3 separate regions of the Homo sapiens genome follow, and regions 2 and 3 are each reported to be linked to region 1. The links are microRNA targets in miRTarBase. Many come from high-throughput screens and were not tested one by one. Region 1 holds a microRNA gene; each other region holds the end of a gene's coding sequence.
Evidence for each region. The annotated mature microRNA hsa-miR-4474-5p reads UUAGUCUCAUGAUCAGACACA and lies in region 1 at 4,393-4,413, opposite strand. An mRNA with a match to its seed (bases 2 to 7 or 8) in the 3' UTR can be bound and repressed. Matches are read on the target gene's strand: a 7mer-m8 pairs with bases 2 to 8, a 7mer-A1 pairs with bases 2 to 7 and ends in A, and an 8mer does both.

Region 1 (7,000 bases):
TCAGCTAGGTAAAAGAACTCTTCTATGGGTGCAGTGGCTCATGCTTGTAATGCCAACACTTTGGGACAGTGAGGCGAGTGGATCACTTGAGGCCAGGAGTTCGAGATCAGTCTGCCTAACATGGTGAAACTTTGTCTCTACTAAAAAATATAAAAATTAGCTGGGCGTGGTGGCATGCACCTGTAGTCCCAGCAACTCAGGAGGCTGACGCAGAGAATCACTTGAACCTGGGAGGTGGAGGCAGAGGCTGCAGTGAGCAGAGATGGCGCCACTGTACTCCAGCCTAGGTGACAGAGCGAGACGCTGTCTCAAAAAAAAAAAAAAAAAAAAAAAAAAAAAAAAAAAAAAAGTTCTTCTAGCTGTTCTACCTTTACCAGTACTTGGTGTGGTCAGTCTTTTAAATTTTAGCCATTCTACTGAGAATGTAATACTCTTCTATTGGTTTTAATTTGCATTTTCCTAATCACTTATGATGTCGAGTATCTTTTCTTGTGCTTCTTTCACATCTGTATATCTCCTTTGATGAAGTGTCTATTCAAATCTTTTGCCCATTTTATAACTGAACCATCTTATTATTCAGCTGTAGGTTATTCATATAATCTAGATCAAGCTTGTCCAACCCGCCGACCACAGGCCACATGCAGCCCAAGATGGCTTTCAATGCGGCCCAACACAAATTTGTAAACTTTCTTAAAACATTATGAGATTTTTTTGTGTGTGATTTGTATTTTTTTTAGCTCATCAGCTATCAGTAGTGTATTTCATGTGGGGCCCAAGACAATTCTTCTTCCAATGTGGCCCAAAGAAGCCAAAAGATTGGACACCCCTGATCTGGATTCATGCCCTTGTCAGACATATGTTAACAAATATTTTCTCCCAGGCTGTGGCTTAACTTTTGTAACTTTTGAAGAGCAAATTGTTTTTATTGTTTCAATATAACTTTAAGCACTAAAGCATACTGCCTTAGTATTAGTGTATTAGATTCCTAGGGCTATTGTAACAAAATACCACAAATAGGGTGGCTTGAAACAACAGGAATTTAACCATTCATGCTAGAATTCTGAAATCAAAGTGTCAGTAGGGCCATATTCCCTCTGAAAGCTCTAGAAAAGAATCCTTCCTTGACTCTCCTAGCTTCTGGAGGTTGCTGGCAATCTTTGAAATGCATTTCTTAGTTGTAGCAGCATAACTCCAATCTCTGTCTCCATCTTCCCATGGGCTTCTTCCTGCCTCTGTATCTTCATATAAAGTATCTCCTCATAAAGACAGCAGTCACTGGACTTGGGCCAACAGTAATCCATGATGACCTCATCCTAAATTGATCACATCTACAAAAGACACTATTTCCAAATAAGGTCACATTCAAAGGTACCTGGGGTTAGGATTCAACATATATTTGGGAGGATATAACTCAGCCCATAACAGGCATTTAGTGTTTAATATGTTTTTAAAACCCACTGTAAATGATACAGGGAGGCTATGCATGTGTGAGGGGAGAGGGTACACAGGATATTTCTACATCTTCCTCTCAATTTTGCTGTGAACTTCAAACTGCTCTAAAAACATTGTCTTTAAAAAAAACACACACTGAACAATAAATTATTTGACATAAGCTCTGACCTCCTTGAAACAGTCCATTTTTGCTGCAATAACTGTTCTCATAGAGATACCTTCGAAATCATTTGCAGAATTTACCCATGGTCTTATTTCCCCAAAATAGATGCATTCCTTGCAATACAATCAGCTCAGCTTAAGGGTCTACCCTGAGCTGTCCCCTTATTAACAACTGTTAGGTAAAGGTACATGAAGAAAAAAACTTGTATGACTGTTTCTTTTAAGATCTCTATTGTTCTGTCTCCAAATAGGGTGTAAAAATGTAGCATCCTCCTGTAGTCCCAGCTACTCAGAAGGCTGAGGCGAGAGGATTATTTGAGCCTAGGGCTTTGAATCCAGCCTGGACATCATAGCAAGAACCTGTCTCTTAAAAAAAAATGTGGGGGAACAGGTGTTAATGCAGTGACAACTCTAAATCTGCATTCAGAGATGCCTCTTATTCCATCCCTGTCTTCCTTCAATACCACCTAACAGAAAATGGAAAAATGCTTCTCCAAAGAAACATGTTCCAATTATCTATTGATACATAATAAGTCACCATCAAGCTTAGTTTAAAACAGTAATAGCCATTTTACTTTCTCTGAGGGTCAGGAACTCAGAAAGGTTTGATTGTGTGGTTCTAGCTCAGAGTTTCTCATTTGGCTGCACTGAAATGGTGCCTGAAGCAAGAGCGGTGCAGGGCTAGCAGGGCAAAGGTCTGGCTGCTTAATACAGTTGGTCTTCTCAGGGCCCTTGGTCTCTCCTCACAACACAATGGCCTCTGAGCAGCTGGACTGCTTACATGAAGGCTGCAGGTTTCACAACTGAACACCGTATTTCAACAAAGAAAGGAGCATCACCTTTTCTGATCTAGCTTCAGAAATCACATAGCATCATTTCTGCACTACTCTATTGGCTGAAACAGGCACAAAAGCCAACCTAGCTTCAAAAAGAAAAGACAAAGACCCTACCTCTCAAAGACAGAAGTAGCAAAATCAACTGTGAGAAGAGCATGTGGGTGAAAGATAACTTTACGGAAATCTTTGGAAAATTCAATTTGCCCCAGAATATATCCTAGTTCTCCCTGGGGCATCAAGAACTATTGACCACTCAGTTCAAATTAAATTCTAAGGCAAAGCTATACACTGACATGCCCAGGCTCAATATTTTCCCCATTCTTATTTCTCCCAATACTGTTTTCCATCTTGTCTACTACAGTTGAGTATACCCTATTGACTTTGGTCCTCCAGGTGTTCTGTGTTACAAAAACCGAATTCAGAAGTTACTTACCACAGGTCATATAGAGAAACTAATAGCAATCTCTTGATGCACAGCTGCATCATTTTCAACTCCCTCCAGTTCAATGTCTTCTTTAAGTTCAATGCCCAGAAACCTGGGTTACACTCTAGCCCTCCCAATAATTATTAAGAATTGCCTATAATTCAGAGTTTCAAATCATTCTTTCATTAGTTTAAAGTGAATTTCCCATTATAAAACACACAGATACACACACACATGCACACACATGTGCACCACTTTCCTTAGCTAAATATGATTGATTTTTGGATAATTTACCAATTATGGTTCATGGTATCCATTCACTAGTTAAAATGCCTAGGAATTACTATATTTCCCTTTCTACTTCCATAAATCATGATGTCACAAATCTTTATTCAAATATACCATTTCTAGGACACCTCATTTACTTTAAGATTCTCTCATTCTCCATAAAATGTAATGGAAAATAAATTCCACACAATAAATATTGATGGAACACTGAATACATACCAGGCCTTCTGCTATGTGTGAGGTGACGAAGGCAAATAAGACAGTTTCCTTCCCCTCACATAGTTAAGGCATCTAACTATGAAGACAAATTTACCAACAACCATGATTATTACTTACAATATCCAAAGGAGCCCTCATTAAGACCTAGGAGACTCAGTTAAAACCACACCCGGCCGGGCACGGTGGCTCACGCCTGTAATCCCAGCATTTTGGGAGGTCGAGGCGGGTGGATCATGAGGTCAGGAGATCGAGACCATCCTGGCTAACAAGGTGAAACCCCGTCTCTACTAAAAATACAAAAAATTAGCCGGGCGCGGTGGCGGGCGCCTGCAGTCCCAGCTACTTGGGAGGCTGAGGCAGGAGAATGGCGTGAACCCGGGAAGCGGAGCTTGCCGTGAGCCGAGATTGCGCCACTGCAGTCCGCAGTCCGGCCTGGGCGACAGAGCGAGACTCCGTCTCAAAAAAAAAAAAAAAAAAAAAAAAAAAAACCGCACCCAAGAGGTCAGGCGAGGTGGCTCAGACCTGTAATCCCAGCATTTTGAGAAGCCAAAGCAGGCAGATCACCTGAGACCAGGAGTTCGAGACTAGCCTGGCCAATATGGTGAAACCTCGTCTCTACTAAAAATACAAAAATTAGCTGGGGGTGGTGACACACACCTGTAATCCCAGCTACTGGGGAGGCTAAGGCAGGAGATTCACTTGAACATGGGAGGCGGAGGTTGCAGTAAGCCAATATGGTGCCATTGCACTCCAGCCTGGGCAACAAGAGCGAAACTCCATCTCAAAAAAAAAAAAGGGGGGGGGGGGGACTACCTTTTAAGGAAAAGTAGGTAAATATCTGACAATAATAAAACGAAGAGTACTGATTGTTGACAAAGTTAAAATGTAAGCAAAAATTCCAGAGTATACAGAATGCCTGGCTTGACAGGGCACCACAAATGAACCTGACTTGAAGTGTGGTTCCAGGTGCCTACCTTGTTAGCCTCATGACCAGCCACAAAGAGCCATATTTGTGTCTGATCATGAGACTAACAAGGTAGGCAAATGCCAGCCTGTGATGTTCCTTACATAGCACTGTAAGGAGCTGAATTCTACAGGTAATAGCTAGCCACCAAGTATTTTTAAGAGGTGAAAAAACTTGCAGACAACGTGATCTTATACAGTTGCTTGTCTATATCCATGGGTTCCACATCTGTGGATTCAACCAACCACAGATTGAAATATTAGGAGAAAAAATTACATCTGTACTGAACTTTTTTATTGTCATTATTCCCTAAGCAATACAGTATACCAACTATTTATATAACATTTACAATGTATTAGTTATTATAAGTAATCTAGAGATAATGTGTAGTATACAGGAGAATGTGCATAGGTTATATGCAAATACTATGCTATTTTATATCAGAGATTTCAGAATCCATGGGTTTGGGTATCCACAGGAGGTCCTGGAACCAATCCCCTGCAGATACTGAGGAATGACTGTAGACAAACAACCCTAACATCTCCATCAAAAAACTGTTAGAACTAATAAATAAATTCAGTGAAGCTGCAGGAAACAAAATCAACATCATTTTTCAAACATCAGTAGCATCTGTATATGCTAACAATGAGCTATCTGAAAGATAAATTAAGAAAACAATCCATTCACTACAGCAACCAAAAAGAACAGAATGCTTAGGAAAAAATTTAAACCAAGAAGTTGAAAGACCTGTACACCAGAAACTATAAAAGATTGATGAAAAAAACTGAAGACAACACAAATAAGTGGAAAGACATACTGTGTTCACAAGTGGAGAAATTAATAGTGTTAAAATGTCCACACTACCCAAAGTGATCTACAGATTCCCCAATCAAAATTTCAATGACATTTTTTACAGAAATAGAAAAAACAATCCTAAAATTTGTATGGAACCACGAAAGACCCCAAATATCTGAAGTAATCTCAAGCAAAAAGAACAAAGCTAGAGGCATCACACTATCTAACTTCAAAGTATACTACCAAGCTACAGTAATCAATACAGCATGCTGCTGGTATAAAAAGAGACACACAGATCAATGGAATGGAATAGAGGGCCCAGAAATAAATCTACACATATACAGTCAATTGATTTTCAACAAAGGTGCCAAGAATGCACAATGGGGAAAGCACAGCCTCTTCAATAAATGGTGTTAGGAAAACTGGACACCACACACATAAGAATGAAATTCGACCCTTACTTCATACTAAATATAAAAATCAACTCAAAATGGACTAAAGATTCAAATGTAAACCTTGAAACCATAAAAATACTAGAAGAAAACATAGCAGAAATTCTCCATGACATTATTCTGGGTGATGATTCTTTGGATATGACCCCAAAAGCACAGGCAACCAAAAACAAAAACAAAAAAATAGATAACTGGGATTACATCAAACTAAAGAGCTCTGCACAGCAAAGAAAACAATCAACACACTGAAAGACAACCTGCAGCCTGGAAAAAAATATATGCAAACCATGCATCTGATAAAAGACTAATATCCAAAATATATGAGGAACTCAAACAACTCAATAGCAAGAAAATAAATAACCTGATTTTAAAATGGGTGAAGGACTTGAAAAGACATTTCTCAAAAGACGACATACAAATAGGCAACAGGTGTATGAAAAAATGCCCAACATTACTAATCATCAGAGACATGCAAATTAATACCACAATGAGATATCACTTCACACGTGCTAGAATGGCTATTATCGAAAAGATGAAGATAGATTTTTGCAAGGATATAGAGAGCAGAGAAAAAGGATCCACTGTATACTGTTGGTGGGAATGAAAACTAGTATAGCCATTATGGAAAATTTTAAGGTTCCTCAAAAATTAAATTATTGACCTAGCAATTCCAAAACTGTGTATACATCCAAAGGAAACAAAACCAGTATTTCAAAAAGATATCTGTACTTCCATTTTCACTGCAGTACTAGTTACAATAGTCAAGATATGGAATCAACCTAAGTGTCCATGAAGAGAAGAATGGACAAAGAAAATGTGAAATATATATCCCCAATGGAATTGTGTGTGTGTGTGTGTGTGTGTACAAATATAATTATATTAAAGGCTGAATACTATTCAGCCTTTAAAAAGAAGGAAATCCTGTCATTTTCAACAACATGAATGAACCTGGAAGACATTATGTTAAGAGAAATAGGCCAGACACAGAAAGACAAATAATCACATGATTTCATGTGTATGTGTAATCTAAAAAAGCTGAACTCATTGAATCAAAGAGTAGAATGGTGGTGGGTGGGGGCAGGTGGAGAGTTGGGGAGATGTTGTTCAAAGGATATAAAATTTCACTTGATAAGAGGAATAAGTTCAAGAGATTTATTGTACAATATGGTGACTACAGTTCATAACAATGTATTTTATTTTGAAAAACATTAAGGGGATTTTAAGTCTTCTCACCACAAAACATGATGAGTACCTGAGATAATGCATATGTTAATTAGCTCAATTTGGCCATTTCACAATGTATACAGATTTCCACATCATGTTATACACTATAAATATGTATAATTTTTATTTTTCAATTTAAAAAATTATTTTTTTAAGTAGAAAAACTTGATGAGACCCATGTTTT
Region 2 (7,252 bases), not on the chromosome of region 1:
GTAACCCCAGCACTTTGGGAGGCCAAGGCGGGCGGATCACCTGAGGTCAGGAGTTTCAGACTAGCCTGACCAACATGGAGAAACCCCGTCTCTAATAAAAATATAAAATTAGCCAGTCATGGTGGCACATGCCTGTAATCCCAGCTACTCGGGAGACTGAGACAGGAGACTCGCTTGAACCCAGGAGGTGGAGGTCGCGGTGAGCCAAGATCATGCCATTGCACTCCAGCCTGGGCAACAAGAGTGAAACTCCATCTCAAAAAAAAAAAAAAATACAAAAAAACAAAAAATCCAAGTGGCTAGCTGTAGCCCTTGACAAAGTAACACATAACCACAAATTTAGCACATAGTGGGAAACTCAGAGGTTTTAGTTTTTCCCATGAAGTTCTCTTCTTTGAATGTATTTTTCTATCATGTAGCCCCTGCCTTTAAAACATTAAGCTCTTGGTGAAAGCAATGGATCCTATAACTCATTTATCCTTCCCTCCCTTCTCCATTTACCTCCATCTGCCTTCTATCTGAGGACGAGAGTTACGTTTGCTGATATTAAAGTCACCAAGGAATCACCAGTTTGTGGGTTTGTTGGAGGCTGGACATGCACACACAGAATATGGCTCCTAGCATAAACTCCTGCTCAAATACAACAGACTTCTTAAGAAAAAAAATAAAATAAAATAAAAAAGGAAAACAAAACAACAACAACAGAAAATACCAAAACCAGTAGATGGTTCCAGTTCTGGTAATGACAGTGTAGCTTTTATCAGACTAACCCACTATTCAATAACAATTATAAACTCTGGACAAAATATGAAAAACAACTGTTGATGGCAATGAAGAACAACCAAAGGCAGGCAGCCACTGGAATGGCCATGGCTCTTGAAAGAAGGGAAGCAAAGTGAGTTCTATATTTAACTGGTTTTCCCCCATGAGTATTATTTAGTCCTGACAGTGCATGGTGAAATACAGCCTAAACAAATGTGGCAATTTGAGTCTCCAAGAACACAACTGTATATTCTCAAAAGGAAAATAATCCAGAATTTCTGTAATGTATCATCTACAATGTCACTCCTATACTAAAAAATTTAATAGACATGTATAGAAACACAAAAAATGTGACCCATAATGAGAAAAATTAGCCAATAAAAATAGACACATAGATGACCTAGATGTTGGAATTAGCATCTATGTTAACTGTTTTAAGCTGCTATGAATATGCTAAAGAATTTACAGGAAGAAATGGACAGAATGGGTGAATAGAGAACTCAGAAGAGAAATGGGAACTCTAGTAAAAGAAGAGAGATCCTAGATCCATGCTATCCAACATGGTAGCCCTTAGCCACGACAGCCACAATGTGGCTATTGAGCATTTCAAGTGTGGTTAGTCCAAATTGAGATGTGCAGTAATTTTGAAATACTAAATTTCAAAGATTTAGCATAAAATAGCTCATTAATAGTTTTTATATTGATTATATGTTAAGTGATAATATTTGGGATATGTATAGTTAAATGAAACATATTATTAAAATTAACTACACCAATTATTTTACTTTTTTTATTTTTTGTAGAGATGGAGGGGTCTCCTTGCTGTCCAGGCCAGGCTCGAACTCCTAGCTTCAAGTGATCCTCCTCCCTTGGCCTCCCAAACTGCTGGGATTACAGGTATGAGCCACTGCACCTGGCTATTTTACTACTTTTGTTGTTGTTTTACTTTTCTTTTCTTTTTTTTTTTTTTTTTTTGAGACAGGGTGTCACTCTGTCACTCAGGCTGGAGTGCAGTGGCATGATCTTGACTCACTGCAATTTCCAGCTCCTGGGCTCAAGTGATCCTCTCACCTTAGCCTCCTGAGTAGCTGGGACTACAGGCATGCACCACCATTCCCAGTTAATTTTTTTTTTCTTTCTTTTTTTTTTTTTTGGTACAAAGAGTTTCGCCATGTTTCCCAGGCTGGTCTCAAACTCCTGGGCTCAAGTGATCTGTCTGCTTTGGCGTCCCAAAGTACTGGGATTACAGAAGTGAGCCACCATCCCTTGTCTATTTTAGTATTTTTTAATGTGGCTACTGGAAAACAAAATTACATGAGGCTTGCATATTTCCATTGGACAGCACTGTTCTAGAACTGTAAAATACAATATTTGAATTCAGAGAGGTGAAAATACTAAAATTAATTAATAAATTAATAAGATTCCAGGATGCTACTAGGTCAATATACAAAAATCAGTTGCATTTCTAACCCTAGCAACAAACAATTAGAAAATAATTTTTTTTTTTTGAGACAGAGTCTCACTCTGTTGCCCAGGCTGGAGTGCAGTGGCATGATCTTGGCTCACTGCAACCTCTACTTCCTGGGTTCAAGTGATTCTTGTGCCTCAGCCTTTCCAGTAGCTAGAATTACAGGTGCACACCACCACTCCTGGCTAATTTTTGTATTTTCAGTAGAGATGGGTTTTCACCATGTTGGCCAGGCTGGTCTCGAACTCCTGACCTCGAGAGATCCACCCACCTCGGCCTCCCAAAGTGCTGGGATTACAGGTGTAAGCCACTGCGCCTGGCTGGAAAATAAATTTTTAAAAGGCCATTTATAATAGCATAAAACTCAGACTTTCAAGAATAAACTTAATAAAAGGCTAAGCTCTATGCACTGAAAGCTGTAAACATTGCTGAGAGCAGCTAAAAAAGAACTAAATGAAGAAATGTTTCTGGATTGTGCAGATGTCAATTTTTGAGAAATTAATCTATAGATATATACTATCCCAATGGAAATTCCAGGAAACTTTTGTAAAAATTGACAAGCTGATTTTAAAATGTATATGAAAATGGAAATGTCCTATATTAGTCAAGACATTCTTGAAGAATAAAGTTGGGGGACTTACCCTGATTTCAAGACACAATAACACTCCAGCATTAGTCTTATTAATTTTGTTAATTTATTGTGGCATTTAGTAATTTAGTTAATTAGTGTAGTTATTAATTTAGCATGTGTTAAGATAAATAGGGCCAGGTGCGGTGACTCACACCTGTAATCCCAACAATTTGGGAGGCCAAGGCAGGAGAATTGCATTTGCCCAGGAGTTTGAGACCAGACTGGACAACACAATGAGACCATGTCTCTATAAAAAATTAAAAATATTAGCAAGGCATGGTGGCATATGCTTGCAGTCCTAGGTACTTGGGAGGCTGAGGCAGGAGGATCACTTGAGCCCAGGAGTTTAAGACTGCAGTGAGCTATGACTGTACCACTGCACTCCAGCCTGGGTGACAGAGGGGACCCTGTCTCTAAAAATAAATACATAAATAAAAATAAAAATAAATTAGATTGCCTCTGGGAGGAGGGGATTCTGGACTAGAAGTAATTAAAGAAACTTTCAGAAATGTTGGTAGAGTCTATAACTTTATTTGGCTGATGATTACAATGATATATATATACATCTGTCAAAACTCATTGATCTGTACATTTTATTTTATGTAAAATAATTGTGTAATAAAATATGTAACATAATTTTTTAATAAAAAGCAACAGAGTGGAGTAATCCTGGCATGGCAGCCCCAGCATGTTGGTTGGGAATGTAACTGTACAATGGAGAGAGATGAACTCTGCGACACACTGAGCTGAGTTTATATCCTTTCTTTACTACTTATCAGTGGTGACCTTGGGCAAATTGTTCACTCTCTGCAAGCCTTAGTTTTCTCATCTGAAAAATGGTGCTGGTGCTAGCACTTTACTTCACAGATTTGCAAGGAAGAGCTAATGAGTATAAGTAGTTAAAGTATCTAGCATGGTTTCTGGTAGTTTACAGTCCCACAGAAGAAAACATGCCCTAAGGGTAAGCGGTTATCTGCCAAGAAAAAAGGTGGACAGTGAAGGGGGAAAAAAAAGTCTTCAATTATGAGAACCTTGAAGATTTTCAGGTCTTGAAGATGCCTTTTATTGACCCTTGCTTTGGTAACATGATCTGGGAAAGTAGAATCCTTCCTGCTCTAAATCATCTACTCTTCGGAAATATATAAATTCCCCCTCTACAGTAGCAGAGCTCCACAAGAAGCCTGCCCAATTTTTCCAAAGTTATTTTTTTGATATTGGTGCCCAGATGTAGGTGGCTAAAGTGAGCAGGGAAAGCTAAGTACAGCCCTCCAGTGAAACACAGAAAGTACAAGAGTCTTGAAACAAACTCCAGATCACCCTGTGGCTCTGGGAATCAAACTTCAGAGGTCATCAGGCTGGCGCTTCTGTTATGGTTTATGTCCTGGCCAGTTATCCCATGAGACCACATCTCTTGTTCCATACAGGCACGGACCAAAGGCCTGGGTTCTGCTTGACTCCACTGCTCACTGGATGACCAAGACATGTTCCACATCTACAAACTAGAGGTAATACTGGCTTGCTTTAAAGTTGTAAGGGGAGCAACTTCCTTATGGCATATATTTATGATTTAATACTATGGTCTTTGCTATAACATTGTGGATCGGAATAAGAACTATGCGGCTGAATATGTCCATATCTTTTGTTCAACTGTAGTTGAAGATCTTGTGAGCCTGGGATTAACAGTAATGGCAAAATTTTATTTCCATCAACAGATCTGTATAATTTCTATGGTTAGAAAAAAAAACCCTATATAATTTGGCATGCTTATTGTTTTGCCTCTGTAACAAATAACTCAAATTCATATTTATTGATAAAGAGTTATTTATTTAAGAAAGATGCGTGAAAGCATCTACTCCTTCTAACTCCTTCACATAGTTTTCGGTTCTGATGTATCCTTAACTGCCTTATCATCTTACACTGAGTGTTAATCTGTAACCCCTGATAAGTCCTTGGGGGTAAGAATCTTAGAATATCTATTTATTGAGTTGTAATGGTGCTTTATATATTCTGGATACTAGACCCTTATCAGATACATGGTTTGAAAATATTTTTTCTCTTTCTGTTGGTTGTATTTTCACTTTTTTGATAATGTGCTTTGAATTATGTCTTAAATATTTTATTGTGAAAATCTTGAATTTTGATTATGTCCAACACATTTGTTTTTTTAAACAAGAATCTTAGAATATCTATATATACACGAATACACTAGACATATTAAAACATTAAATAATTTTATTCTTTTCTCATTTACAGTAGCCCAGTGGTAAGCATGTTAGAAAACCTGAAGAAATTTAAAAGTTTTTGGTTTACAAAAAGCATGTATAAAAATACCTGTTCAGACAAACAAAGATCTGATCATTACATTGCCCAGCTTTAAGAATGCCAAAAATAACTAAAATACTGTCAATCAAATGAGAGGGCTACATGGGTTTATTAAAGTTTATTTTAACAATTTTAGCTAAGCAGAATGTGCTAATGTAATTCAAGTTACAGTTACTGCCAGATAACATAAGAGAAAACATTGTGTGTGGCCACTTAAGATTATGCCTCAAACAGATACTGTTTCGTGCGCAGAACAGAGTTGGGGAACACAGCTGGGTTAAGTTTCAATGGTAAGCAGCAATAAAGATCAAGAAAATCCCCAACTTTTCTAATAACCGCTATACAATATGAAAAAAAAAATAGTATCTATCACCACCTCTTAACAATGGACATCAAAATTAGGATTGTAGGTTTTCTAAGTGCTTGGATAAAAAATGCGAACACAGTTAAGATCCTTGGTTAATTATCTTTGATTTTTCAAAACCCCCAAAACATAAAATATTTTGCTTGCTGGTGCATTAACCCATTAGCAATAACCTGAGCTATCTTTTCCTCACCAAGTATTTTGACAGTGCAAAATGTTAGTAGTCTCAGTAGACGCTGCTCACCACATTCTGTCATTGCAGCCTGATGATGAACCATGTCAGGGAGGTATCACTGCCAAGAGAAATGCACAGCAGCCTAAAAGATACATGATTCACTAGCATGCTGGAGTGTCAAAGGTAGATAGGCAGTTTTATGCAAAATGTGAAATATATAATTCAAAATGCCCACAAGCTAACAGAAAATACAGTATTGAATCTTTTAATATCAAAACAAATACTTATTTTGCTACTTTGAACAGTATTCCACATGGACAAGCAGATCGCGATGCTCAGTGGCTGGATACTGTATATTGCACTTGGGACATTCCACCAGGCTTTCATTGAGTGCAGCAGTGGGACTTTTTGGTGAGGCGGCAACTTTTTCTCTGTTTTCAGTCTCTCCTTGGAAAGTGACTAATGGCTCTGTGATGGCAAACTCATGAAGCTGTTTCTGAAAAATAAGTTTCAAATAATAGAATTTGTAAATAGGGCCAATGTTCAGCTTTTTTTTTTTCTTTTTTTGAGGCAGTCTCACTCTGTCACCCAGGCCAGAGTGTAGTGGCACAAACATGGCTCACTGCAGCCTCGACCTCCCAGGCTTAAGCAATCCTCTCACCTCAGCCTCCTAAGTAGCTGGGACTACAGGCACATGTCACCACGTCCAGATAATATTTCTATTTTTTGTAGAAATAGAAAATTCTACAAAAAATTAATTCTATGTTGCCCAGGCTGGTCTCAAACTCCTAAGCTCAAGTGATCTGCCCACCTCAGCCTCCCGAAGTGTTGGGATTACAGGCATGAACCACTGCACCCAGCCTGTTCAGCAATTTTAACTGTTCCATAAGTATTATAGCTGCTTCAGCACTGTAGACAGATTTTCTTTTGAATTTCAGCTCATCAGTATTATGAGGGTAATATATGAGGTAGTTGTGAATTTATCCAGATAACTACTGTAATTATCCAAATTACCCAGATATGGGAGTTGGGTGTATATATGAATATGTTTTATTAGGACACAGAGTCGAATATTAGGTAGGCCTATATGCAAGGCTGATTAAATTTGCTAGTTTTGTAAAACAGAGGCAACGTCAGCAATAAAGTACTACATGGAAATTAAAGGCAGCAAGCAATTTTAGCAGCTCAAACAGCTTATACACAGAAATGACTAAGATATTCTATCATACCTTTGAGACTTTCCTTTTTTGTGTTTTTTTTCTAAGAACTTGGAGTAGTTAAAAATGAGTATTTTACAGCACAGTGAAGAGGGTGGATAGCAGGAACAAAGTACAGGAAAATTACAAATTCTTTTTTTTTTTTAATTATACTTTAAGTTTTAGGGTACATGTGCACAATGTGCAGGTTTGTTACATATGTATACATGTGCCATGTTGGTGTGCTGCACCCATTAACTCATCATTTACATTGGGTATATCTCCTAATGCTATCCCTCCCCACTCCCCCCACCCCACAACAGGTCCTGGGGTG
Region 3 (7,300 bases), not on the chromosome of region 1:
TTTAGTGTGCATATCCTTGGATTTGGCAACTAGGGAATTACTGATTATTTAGTAGAGAGCTATCTCAGCAGTGGTGTGAGCAGAAATTGATTTGTGATAGGGGCAAATGGGTTTCCATTTCTTTGCATACAGTTTTCTCTCTACAAGTGAGAGATAAAGATGGTCCTTATCCTGAGAGAGAGTTGGAGAAGAGAAGTCGTTTTATGATTTGGGGCACTTATGTTTTATTTTTAAGAAGAGTTTTGAGCATGTTTACAGATGGGAGAGAAGAAGACAAATTAAACGGAAAGATTAAAGATATATGTGTGTGTCTATGTATGTGCATGTGTGGGGAAAGGTTGTGGGGAGAGAGACTGAAAGAGTCAAAAGTAGCCTGGTCAGATTTGGAGAAGTACAGGAGTATCTTTTTCTCTAACAGAAGTGCAAAGATAGACTGGGTGGGCATAGATAAATTCTAGAAACTCATTATCTGATAGTCTGTATTACTTTGTGGAAAGTGGGTAGCTTCTACTAAGAATGATAGGTAGTGTGAGGTAGGATTTAGAAAGTGTCTTTGAAGGGCCATCAAATTTGGAGCTTATAAAAGGGAGATGATCCCAATTAGCCAAGTTTTGTGGCTTTTCTCAAATCATCAGGATCATAGCTAGATGCTTCCAGTATTACCTTTTTTTTTTTTTTTTTTTTTTTTTTTAGCGTCATAAACTGTCAGGACCTTAACAGGAAGGCGTGTGCCCTTGTATTCTCTTTAGTTGTCTCAGTTTTGCCTTCCTGGTGGGTGATTCAGAGTCACACACGGTAGGTAAGGTGTAGAGGTGGAGGGTTGGGGGTAAAGGAGGAGTGACAGCTTGTGAGGGGAATGATCTTGGTTGGGCCAGCTATTGGTCATACTAGCCTTGGAAATTCCACCCTTTTTACTCACCCACTTGTTATTTCTTCATCTACTCACCAAATATTTGTTGAGAACCTTGGTTTTAGGCACTAGAAATAAAATTCTGAGCATAAGTGGCAAAGTCGCTATTCTTGTGAAGTTTAAAATCTCATGGGGGAAGACAGACAAGCATCAAATAACCTCCAAGTACAGACCAACAGCGACATCAGCTACCTGCTGTGAAGGGGAAGGCCAGGTGCTATGTGGGTGGCACACGGCCTGTTTTGAGCCTTCAAAAAGAAGTGCTCGGATGTTGCCCAGGGCACAGCATCTTTTGGAGTTGCCCGGCTGTGTGTGGATGAAGGAAGGCCTCTGAGGACCTTAGTGGAGGCCCCCATGGCCCCCGGTGATTTTCAGATGACAAGTCTTTCATGTGTTAGGGCACATCCCCAAATCTGCAGAGCATTGAGCCCTTCTGCTCATTCGGCTGCTGGGAAGGCCAGCCTGAACCCTGCATGGTTGATTTTTTTTTTTTGAACACTGGGCAGCTGATTTATACTTTCACCCTTTGGCTGTTTCTGTGAAGGAGGAGTTTTAAACATATCCCCAGAATGGCCTCGTGGGCACACCATGGTTTCCTCCAAGAACACTCAGAGGGGTAGGAAAGGCAGAGGTGGGAAACGTACGCAGGCCGTGAACAGAAAAGGCAGAATATTCATTCCCAAGTTCGGTCTAAAGCCCATGGTTGACAACTTTCAAGAGATCTCACACTGTATGTTGTGCTGTTTTTGAAATGGGACTGAGAAGACTGAAAAGCAATCCTACAAAATGTTACCCGTGTTTATCTCAAGGGTGGGATCATCAGGTAGTTTCAGTTTCGTTGTTCTTCTTAATTTCTTGCAAATACTCTATTTTCGTGTACTACTGTGGCAAATAGAAGATAAACAGCAAACGTGATCTTTTCCAAGTGGCGTCTGTTTGGGAGCAGACATACCCTGAGGAGATGTTTCCCTGCCGGTAGCTTCTTTGAGGCGAGTTACTGTGAATCTCAACCGCGAAGCCCAGCTCAGGGTGTGGCGACAGCAGCCTCCCTCGGTGAGAGCAGCGGGCGGCAGGGATGGAGAAGGCGCCTGTGTCAAGAGATCCGAGGGGCTTCAGGGAACATTCGAGGGAGAAGGTCGTGAGGCTCAGCCCTGCACACTCTGAAGCCTCCACGTGTGTCAGGTGGGGGCGTGGGGTGGGGCAGGCCTTCCAAAATGACACTTTTGTTTTCAATTAAACATTATCTGCACTGTCCATGGGGCAGAGCTGTGATGTCCAGTGTGTGGATGGGGCTTGACTGTGAGGGCCTCAGACACCAAGCCCGCAGATTCCTGAAAAAGCTCCGGTTCAAAATTACCAAAGCCTTCCGGGTCAGGCTGTGGAAGTCAGTCAGGCTCCGGAAGCCAAGTTCCGGAAGTCAGTAAGGCCTCGGAAGTCAAGTCCTGGAAGTTGGGCTTGCAATCATTAGGTGGAGATATTGTTTGTTCTGTGCTCAGGTTTGTCATCCTCCTTAAATTCAAAGGAGATAGAAGCTGCAAATACTTGTCAGAGTTTAGGTGTGATCGGAAAGGAATTTTAAGAAACGTTTATTATGTTTCAGACAGCAGCAGCCTCCCTCATGATGCGGGAAGGCAATGTGGGAGGGAAACCCTCTGGGGGCCTGATTCAGCTTGGCAAGTGTAAGAGAGCACCCGATGAACTTCCCGTAGGTATCCAGAAAAGAGCAGACCCAAATCCAGACAGAATCTTCTTTTCATGTTGGTGGATGGGGGTGGGGAGGAGTAGGCACATGCGTCCAGTCATAGGCATTCCAGAGATTAAAAATGCAGGAGCAGAGGAGGAAAATTGGAGAGATTTTAAACATCAGGAAATGTCTGCATGGGCTATTATATAGTCTTTGGAGGAGGTGGAGAGAGTCCCCGCGCGACCCCTTCGCTGCTACAAGCCAGCCTCATCGTAAAGGGACTTGAGAGCAGCCAAGGGGAGGAGTATTTACAGGTCCCGCATTGGTTCAGAGGCGGAGGCGAGCAGGATGCGGCTTTCTTTCTGGGCTTTGCGTTTCACAGTGAGGATTTTAACACTAATCCTGGTAAAGCCTGCATATCAGCGGGGAGTCAGGGTAAAACAATCGAAAATGTGGTCCTTCCCATTGAATAACCTGTGACCTTACAGCAATTGAACTATTGGCTGCCATCACTGCAAGTTAATAACCTATTTTATAGAACGGAGCCTACAGACTGTTTGAAATGGCTGTTTTTTTTTTCTTTCTTTCTTTCTTTTTTTTTTTTTTTGAACAACATTCCTGCAGAATTCCCTGGAGTGAGACTCAGGACAATATTAAATCCAATGAATCACGCAGCTTTCAGGAGGGCAGGGCAGCACGCTGCAGAGCAGCACTGAATGATGGCTTGGCCTGGCGTCCCTGGTGGCAGCAGTGGCCGCACCAGGCACCGTGTTCTCATTCAACAAAGACTCAGGTTAGTGAGCGAGATGCCTGTACCAAATCTCCCTTCCCTCTTTTTCAAGTTTCTGGATGTTGTGTAATTCTTTTTTGCAGCATTCAGTTCTGCAAGGAGCCTAGTGAATGCTTCCATCAGTGGACTATGAAAGGCATCTGGACAAGCAGTTGCCTCATGGTCTGTACACAATTCATTAATTTGAAAATTACTCCCGGTGACTGTACCTTGCTCTCAGGTCAGACTCAACTAACTCCAGGGAGTCTCATGGTCGGGGCAGGGTACACAGGCCTGGATGGGTTTACTTTGACTGTGCTGTGCTTGCCTGGGCCTGATCAACACCTACCCTCCAGCCCCTGGGGAATTCTGCTCTGCTCCTTACCACTTATTGGCTTGCTCGTGTGAGGGCCTTAAAGGCCATGCTCCCAAAAGTGGGCCTTGAAGACTGGGCTGGCCAAGGGGCCTGGTGCTCCAGAAATTTACCAGAGCACTCAGTTCCATCTACCTCCTTTGGAGTGGTAAGTTGCTCATAGGACTTATGATTGTGCTCATAGGATGTAGTTAGAATGTCTAGTATGTCTGCCCAACTGGATAAGGACCCTGGGGGAAGGAACAGAAGATTTGAGGCCGTGATGCTCCCAGGATAGTTCAAACACAGGCAAGTCCAGCGGCATTGTCGCGGATTTGTTAGAATTGCACAATCTCTGGCCTCACCCAGACCTATGAATCAGAATCTGCATTTAACTAGGTCTGAGAAGTGCTGCTTTTTAAAACTCATCTAAAGTTGGGCAGAGTTAAGCATCCCTGCCCCTGATTTGTAGTGTGTGGCTGCAGTGGGAGCATCCTTGCCTCGCCCTAGTTTGCCGACTTCCTATGGAGGGGATACGGCCTACACAGCCCATTTCTCAAATGCCCATTTCTCCAAACACTCTCCCAGCTGTGACTCATTTGTGTGTCAGGTCTTCGAGTGATGACTCAATACTGAGAAACCCCTTCATGAAGTGTGTCCTTGTGGTCTGATGATGCCACATGCAGTGCTGATGGGACTGATTCATCAGTGATGTGGGGAGATTAATCCCACTCAACCCTTTGTGGGAAGCACTCAAGCTGGCTTCACAGAGCTTTATGTTGACAGAGCTGAGTCTCTCCTCTCCAAATGCCTGTTGGGAAGTACAGGTAGTGCAGATGCAGCCTGGGCGTGTCCTCTGAGTGGGACTAGATCCTTCATGGGAGGACTGAGGGATGTGAACCTGGGGCCTCGATTGTCATCACTGTCACTGCTTCTGAGTGCTTCCTTTTCAGTGTACCCAGGATTCATCTCCTAGTCTGGCAGTGAAGGAGCCTGCCATGTTTTGGTTTGATGCCTTGCCACCCCTGCATGTGTGAAGAGAAGAACACTATAGTGACAAATGAGATGAAAAATGGCTTCCAAGAACTTAATTCAAAGAATTGTAACAGGTCCCCTTCCATAAGCTGGTTTCTTTGTGAACACCATCCATTCATTGTTGACCTCACTGGGTTCACGTGTGATGCAGCGCAATGGGATCTGGACATGAATGTGGGAGATGAAAGACAAAGACAGACTGTTCCATCGGTGACAAGAACTCTGTGTGTGTGTGTGTGTGTGTATGTGTGTAAGAATAGTCTCCATTATAGTATTTTTCTCTGCGACACACAGATGGAGGCTGTGGTGTAAGAGTTACACCTCTGTCATTCCTCCACTTTGTTCCGGGGAGCCCAGCCATCTGCACTCAGGTCCTCAGGTGGATTTGCCCTTTGGTCGTCAGGCTGCACTGTGAGTTCTGAATCCCTGGCTCCCCAGCCGGACTCTTCAGTGCACAGCTGCCACAGGCAACCTGGACGAATCCAGCCAGGCGGATAGAGCAGGGCTCACCTCGTCAAGGACTTTGCAGCCGCCTTAACTTTGAGTCTCCTTGCTTCTGTCAGGAGGTGCCACAACCTTAGACGTAGCTCTTGTTGGTGTTAATTATTTCCTTTTCATTTCCAGCTGGCACAGAGCTTTAGCACCTTAAGTTGCTCAATTTGATCTCTGCACTCAGGAACAAGGTAATTAAGTCAGCCACAATATAAGAAAACTCATCTGCCTCGACTTGTTGCCCGTCTTCAGACAGTGCTCCATCCTAAATCATTTGATAATGTAAGAGGCTTGGTGCAGTTTTCTACTTGACTGAGGGTTAGTTCATTAGGTCACAATCAGTAATTGATTCTCAGTGTGTCTCTGCTGGTTTTATTACAGTAATGAGGACTGTCGGTTTTTTCATCTCCTCTAATATGTTACCCAAACCATCAGCTTCTCAGTTTGGTGTCAGGATGACTTTGACAGGTTGTTAGCAACTATATGATATACAGAACATCACAGAAATATCTCAAACTGTGTTGCTGTATACCACACAGAGCCTTAGGTGGTCCCGAAATAAGTGAAAGCACTTGCAAGGAAAAAGTTACAGCAGCAATTGAAAATATGACTACAGGCTTGATGTCCTAATGAAGAAGTTCTTTGCACTGCTGGATCTGTTTCGACACGCAGGGCAGATTTCGCAGGGTTGGGTGGCATCTGCAGCTCTCCTCCGGAATATTCCTGAACAGAAAAAGGAAGAGTGCCCCTCAAGAACAAAGCAGACATTATCATTGCAAAAAGTTACACGTTCTTCATTCTCTCTGTGGAGCTCCTTTTAAAAAGTGAGCAATAATCTGCTATCTCTAAGCAATCTGATTTCCTCTTAATTTCTTTTCATCTTGAGCAGGGGAAATCCATGGTATGAAGGCCATGAGAGAGAAACGTAGTGTCATTTATTCTGCTTCTGCTGTGTTCCTGGATGACTTCAAACGTAGAAAGCTGCAAGAGACAAAAGGGGGAAAAAGCATTTTATTTTTTTGATAGATATAATCAAAATATTACAATAAAATTGACCATTTGTTTTTATCTAATGAACACATTTTAAAATTTAATTTTTCCCCCCAAGATTTTGGAGTGTTTTGAGGCTGAGGATTATACTCACCGGAGCAAGTACTGTTTGATGGTAACAGGAATTTTGAGTTCAGAATAGCTAGGAACCCTGGAATAATTCTCTGAGAATGAAACACCAAAGGCCACAAAGACAGTAATGTAGGATGCACTGGCTTCTCAAAGCCCTTACTAGCCTTGTATAAAGGATGATAGATAGAAGTCGAGTATATGCGAACTCTGAAATAAACTCTCTTTCTGAACCTTTTCAAAAAGAAGCAGCACCAAAATAGTAGACCAGTCATAATGTTCCCCTAAAAACCAGAAGCCATGAGACCATTGGGCAAAGAACAAAGAGCTCAGGGGTTTGGCCTGACGGCCTCAAGAATGTGTTTTGTTACATGGTGGACACGGCTAACCGTTTTGCTGTCTAACTCACGAATGATGATCCTTGGAAGATGAGACTGTGAGATGTGTCCAAAGTTAGATTCACATGCATTGAGAAAAACATTTCTCCTACCCTGAGATTGCAGAGGAGGGACAGAGGCCTGGAGACAGCTCAGGGGTGGCTTTGCCTCACTGACATTGTGGGTGACATCGTTAGCCAGCTCCAGCACGCTGGCATGGCATCCAGAACTGCCACTTTAGCCCATGTTTGCAGCCTGATATTATGAAAATCTTTCATCAACACTAAAAATAATATTTAGCAAGCCTCATCGATCCTTCTTTAAATAAAGCACCTATTTTAGGTGGAGGTTAGCAATTTTATTCATAGGATTAATTTCATCCTACAAACTGCTGTGCAATGTCTGACAAAAGATCTTTTTATAAATTCAACGTTGGAAAATAAGTCATAATCCCATCTGCTCCCTTCATTTCTCCCTGCTCTATAGAAGGCATGCAGCAATACAAGGTCTCCTGCAGGCCGAGACAGGTAGAACAGATATTAATAAATCACCAGCAAATATA

Region 2: the mRNA of CEP55 is a reported target of hsa-miR-4474-5p. Seed matches in the 3' UTR shown: 7mer-m8 at 5,769-5,775.
Region 3: miRTarBase lists SMIM21 as a target of hsa-miR-4474-5p. Seed matches in the 3' UTR shown: 7mer-m8 at 5,008-5,014.

The regions. Positions count from the first base shown.
Region 1 is chr9:20,497,918-20,504,917 of GRCh38, forward strand. MIR4474 (microRNA 4474) reads right to left here and starts at 4,425; the gene lies at 4,348-4,425. All of the region lies in intron 2 of MLLT3 (MLLT3 super elongation complex subunit), which reads right to left.
Region 2 is chr10:93,526,916-93,534,167 of GRCh38, reverse strand. It overlaps CEP55 (centrosomal protein 55), which reads right to left. Exons shown (of 9, transcript NM_018131.5): 9 at 5,076-6,218. The coding sequence ends at 6,015. Among named protein-coding and RNA genes, the nearest start is that of CEP55, 34 kb to the right of the region's middle.
Region 3 is chr18:75,404,687-75,411,986 of GRCh38, forward strand. It overlaps SMIM21 (small integral membrane protein 21), which reads right to left. Exons shown (of 3, transcript NM_001037331.3): 3 at 4,790-6,223. The coding sequence ends at 6,178. LOC105372200 (a long non-coding RNA gene) reads left to right here and starts at 760. Exons shown (of 4, transcript XR_935636.3): 1 at 760-2,406; 2 at 3,219-3,387. RefSeq lists an enhancer at 3,774-4,973.